2 separate regions of the Homo sapiens genome follow, and region 2 is linked to region 1. The links come from fine-mapping of genetic effects on gene expression. Tissue or cell type: whole blood. Region 1 holds a variant in brackets; the other region holds the start of a gene. All regions are shown on one strand. Distances are between the middles of the regions.

Region 1 (2,755 bases):
CCTCTTCCATTCTACTTCATAAACCTTCCAATCATTAAATAAATTCACATAATTAAGCACCTAATAGAGTACATAACTGGCACATACTAGGTACTCAATACATAGAAACTGTTGTCACTGTAACTTCAAGATGACTATTCTGCCTACAGACAAGAAGATTACAGCACCAGGGGCCAGGGAAACTATTTCAGAGTCATCTGACAAGACTGGACCTTTTCTTTTTCTGCCCTTTGTGAACAAAATCAGACTGTACCTTGACAAGGGTGGTGATCAAGCGCAGAAAGGCAATAGTAACCCCATACTCGCCCTGAGGCTGTTCACTGTTCATCAAGAGGTTTCCGTACCCTCCAGCATTCATCCCTTCCGCACTGGAAAAAGAAGTAGAGGGAAAAAAAATGATAGGGAAATTTCAAGGTTTCAAGAAACTAATCATAGAGCATTCTTGTTATAGTCTAGATGACTTGAATATAAAATAGAAAAGCTCTCCAGTGGAAATAATCCAATCAAGACAGTTCTGTACCCAGGGTAAACATTAAGAACATGTTTTATTGATGTAAAACCTAGATTGAAAGTAAAAAAATCAAAGGAACATCAGGGAAACATTTTTGTCAAGAGACAGCAAGGCGAGAATGCTCAGGTAGTAAGATGGAGCCTGTGTACTGGTAAGTGGTCTACTGGCTGAGCTCGAGAACCCATGAAATGAGAAAAAGTACAGAGTGATTGTGGCTTAATAACGGGACACCAAGTCCCTGAATCTAGAAACCTCTGGATTTTCTGGGCTGGAAAGTAAATGCTCACATACTAACGTGATTGATGTTGGATAAGAAATCTCTCTTGCTCTCGGCCGGGCACCATGGCTCATGCCTGTAATCCCAGCACTTTGGGAGGCCAAGGCAGGCGGATCAGTTGAGGTCAGGAGTTCGAGACCAGCCTGGCCAACACGGTGAAACACTATCTCTACCAAAAATGCAAAATTACCGGGGCGTGGTGGTGAATGCCTGTAATCCCAGCTACTTGGGAGGCTGAGGCAGGAGAATCACTTGAACCTGGGAGGCGGAGGTTGTGGTGAGCCAAGATCACGCCATTGCACTCCAGCCGGGGCAACAAGAGCGCAACTCCATCTCAAAAAAAAAAAAAAAAAAATCAGGCCAGGCGCGGTGGCTCACGCCTATAATCCCAGCACTTTGAGAGGCTAAGGCGGGCAGATCACTTGAGACCAGGAGTTCCAGACGAGTCAGACCAACATGGTAAGACCTCGTCTCTATTAAAAATACAAAAAATTAGCCGGGCGTGGTGCCGCACATCTGTAATCCTGGCTACCGGGGAGGCTGAGGTGGGAGAATTGCTTGAACCCGGGAGGCAGAGGCTGCAGTGAGCTTAGATCGTGCCACTGCACTCTGGCCTCGGTAACAGAGCGAAACTCCATCTCAAAAAATAAAAAAAGTAAATAAATACATAAATAATACAAAAATTAGCTGGGCGTGGTGGCT[C/T]GAGCCTATAATCCCAGCTACTCGGGAGGCTGAAACACAACAACTGCTTGAACATGGGAGGCGGAGGCTGCACCACTGCACTCCAGCCTGGGCAACAGAGTGAGACTCCATCTCAAAAAAATAAACAAACAAATACATAAAAATAAAATTAATAAACCTAGGCTAGATCTGAGACATATGTGGTTCTCACTAGGGAATATGGCCCACCACCCTAGGACTTGGCTCACCTAATCATCTGACTCAGGCTGGAGACAGGATGGGCCACAAATGGTAAAAAACCTGTGTGACGAAGATCAGTCCAGACCTGAGAAGGAAAAGGAAGAGTTAAATGCCCACATATCTTCAGGTATGTGCCAAGTGCTACATTTTTGGCTCTTGGGAAGATCTGGCATCTCACCTTTGCTGGATTGCGGGCAGCCAAAACAGTTAAGCAGTTGACACAAGAAGCAATGACATCCACAGGTGGGGAGATCACTGTCGTTAACCTGGTTGGAGAACAATACACTATACTCAATAAAGCAAATAATACAACTGGTTCCCTCACAAACATTTTTCCACTTCTCTCTCCCCAGTCTCTCCCCTCAGCAGACATATAAAAACAGGAAAACCCTCACAGATATAAAAACAGGAAAACCAAGGAATATGCGCGAACTTTAACCCAGTGGGTATGTGTCCAGGTTCCTGCAAACTGAGGGCACAAGTGCTGAGATCTCTACTGGGCAGCTGAGGGTCAGCCAAGACAGACTCACCGCTGCAGCAGCATGTAGATGCGAGATGTGATGGGCAGGAGACAGTCTGCTATCGACAGGTCTGTACTGATGACCTTATGGACGAGATCAATGATGGGTTTGACTCGCTGGCAGTGCTGAATCACATCTGAGAAGAAAGACAGCCTGTGACCTCACGGCAAACAACCCCTTTAAGATCACTGAACAGTCTCTGAGACCCAGATACACAAATCAGACAAATCACAATCTTGATGGTTCTAAATTTTATGTAGATATTCTATTTTCTAAATCCTCCAAGCATATCCACTTTTCCTCCTCGTAGGTGATGTTTCCGAAAGCTGACCTTACCTGCAGTTGAAACAACATGAAGCAACATTTCAATCTCGCAGGTAAAGAGGGTCCAGCTGCTATAGGAGTATTCCCAGCGTACCAGGTATGCCCTATCATCCAACATTACTTGGCCCACAGTGCCTTGAGGTATGCGAAGGTTGGTTTGACCCCCTGAGAGAGAAAGATAAATTAGTCTAATATCTGAGG
Region 2 (2,500 bases), 150 kb after region 1:
AAAGAAAAAAAAAAATTAGTCGGGCATGGTGGCTCACACTTGTAGTCCCAACTAATATAGTCTGTTAATTAAAAGAGAACGAGGCCGGGCGTGGTGGCTCATGCCTGTAATCCCAGCATTTTGGGAAGCCGAGGTGGGCGGATCACCTGAGGTCAAGAGTTCGAGACCAGCCTGACCAACATAGAGAAACTCCATCTCTACTAAAAATACAAAATCAGCCAGGCGTGGTGGTGCATGCCTGTAATCCCAGCTACTCGGGAGGCTAAGGCAGGAGAATCGCTTGAACCCAGGAGTTGGAGGTTCCTGTGAGCTGAGATCGAGCCATTGCACTCCAGCCTGGGCAAGAAAAGCGAAACTCTGTCTCAAAAAAAAAAAAAAAAAAAAAAAAAAAAAAAAAAAAAGGCCGGGTGCAGTGGGTCACGCCTGTAATCCCAGCCCTTTGGGAGGCCGAGGCTGGAGGATCACTTATGGTCAGGAGTTCAACCAGGCTGGCCAACACGGGGCCAACATCAACACCATCTCTACTAAAAACACACACAAAAAAATTTGCTGGGCATGGTGGCACGCTCCTGTAATCCCAGCTTCTTGAAAGGCTGAGGCAGGAGAATTGCTTGAACCCAGGAGGTGGAGGTTGCAGTGAGCCGAGATCGCGCCATTGCACTCCAGCCTGGGCAATGAATCGAGACTCTGTCTCAAAAAAAAGAAAGAGTACGTGAACGAATCTATAAGAAACCTGGAGTAAATTATCTCATTTTCAGCTCTGAATCACACTACAGCTCAAGGCCCCAGGGTCCCCATGTATAAAGCCTTCCAGGAGCTAGGCGTGGTGCTGCGCACCTGTGGTTCCAGCTACTCGGGAGGCTAAGGTGGGAGGATCCCTTGAGCCCAGGAGCTCAAGCCTGCAGTGAGCTAGAATTGCTCCACTGCACTCCAGCCTCGGCAACATAGCGAGACCCTGTCTCAAAAAAAATTATTTTTAAACAAGTGAACTACTCAGAGGTCTGAGTGTTGTATTTGTCCCAACTCAGAGGGGGGCTCCGAGCCATCCAAAATTCAGCACAGTACCCGCGATGCCGCCTATTTGGACACCTACTCTGCCCAACCTACTCCAGCCCGCGTACCCCTGCAGCCCGTCGGGCGCCCAGGCCACGCCCCTGGGCGATATTGGCTCTCCGATTGGACAGCTTAATGGAGGTGTGGCCGGAAGAGGCGAGTCTCATTGGCAGAGGCGGGACCGACGGTGTGTGCGGAACATGGCGGAGCGCGGCAGGAAGCGGCCGTGCGGCCCGGTAAGTGCGGGCGGCGGGACCCCGTGCAGGGCAGCATGGTGGAGGCGTGAGAACCAGTGGCGTGGGGGCCTTCGCCGGGGCCGGGCCGCGCCTCCTGCTGCCTGCTTCCCGCTGATCCCAGGCCGGAAGCCCCCGAAGGTGCCGCGTGAGCCTCAGCAGGATGGGAACAGCGCCCGTGTCCTCTCCGGAACCCCCTGCGGCTCCCTGGCCCCCGCTGGATTACGGAGGCGGGACCCTGCTCGCCTCCGGATGCTGAATCCGGAGCCCTTTCGTGGCTTCTGGAGCCCTTTTCTGACTTCCAGGGCGACTGTGGGCAGTGCTGTACCCTGAGCCTCAGTTTTCTCTTCTGTTTTGTGGGAACTCATTCGACAGTTTCTTGAGTGCTTTCTGTGTGCCAGGCTGGGTCCCAGGCGCTGGGGATACAGCGGGTCCCTGCCCTCCTGCCGCTTTCTGGGGCAGCAGTTCGCAGAGGTTCCTTGGCTTCCTTGCCGCCCCGTGTGGAGGGGCTGGCTATGGTGCAGCAAACGGACCCCCTCCAGGTGTGACCATCAGCCTCACACTCATAATCCTCCTACCACTCCTTCTCCAGGGTGAACACGGCCAAAGGATTGAGTGGCGAAAATGGAAGCAACAGAGTAAGTAAGGGTGGGTAAGAGTATCTTCCCATAGGCCACTCCACCAGTGCTCAGTCAAACCCTGGAGAAAGACACCAACTTTGTTCCCTCTGGGTCCTGCAGCACACAAAGTGGGGAGGCAGGGGCCGGGAGCCCTGGGGAGGCTCCCTTGCTGCCCTCTGGCTGCTCACCCAGCAGCTCTCCAGAGTCCAGGCTGACCCAATGAGTGGGAACTGTCTCCTTGGCCAATTAGGATGTTCTTTTATCCAGAGAAAGAGGAGAAAAAAAAATGGAAGGATCTCAAGCTGATGAAAAAACTGGAGCGGCAGCGGGCACAGGAGGAACAGGCAAAGCGCCTGGAAGAGGAGGAGGCAGCGGCAGAGAAGGAGGACCGCGGTGAGCTGGGGTCTTGGGGAGGGCCACAGGTTGTGGCCCACGGTAGTTGTCCTGCAGGCAGAGCAGAGATGTCTTATCTGAAAGGGCCTTTACAGACCAGTAGGTCCAAACATCTTGTCCTGATGGAGAAACTGAGGCCCAGAGAAGGGAGGGAGCCAGCAAACTGAGTTCTGACCTCCTGCTTAGGTAAATTTCAAGCCT

Evidence for each region. PIP is the estimated chance that this variant, and not a neighbour inherited with it, causes the effect.
Region 2: it holds the start of SPOUT1, and the variant in region 1 is fine-mapped to the expression of SPOUT1 in whole blood (TOPMed, PIP 0.98).

The regions. Positions count from the first base shown.
Region 1 is chr9:128,982,513-128,985,267 of GRCh38, reverse strand. It overlaps NUP188 (nucleoporin 188), which reads right to left. Exons shown (of 44, transcript NM_015354.3): 16 at 2,567-2,719; 17 at 2,240-2,366; 18 at 1,888-1,975; 19 at 1,718-1,794; 20 at 254-368. Among named protein-coding and RNA genes, the nearest start is that of NUP188, 36 kb to the right of the region's middle. The variant C/T (reference allele first, on the strand shown) is at 1,491.
Region 2 is chr9:128,828,534-128,831,033 of GRCh38, reverse strand. It overlaps SPOUT1 (SPOUT domain containing methyltransferase 1), which reads left to right and starts at 1,240. Exons shown (of 12, transcript NM_016390.4): 1 at 1,240-1,289; 2 at 1,879-1,924; 3 at 2,174-2,299. The coding sequence starts at 1,254. It overlaps KYAT1-SPOUT1 (KYAT1-SPOUT1 readthrough), which reads left to right. Exons shown (of 25, transcript NR_182311.1): 14 at 1,029-1,289; 15 at 1,879-1,924; 16 at 2,174-2,299. RefSeq lists silencers at 289-512, 1,329-1,508 and enhancers at 989-1,048, 1,846-2,500.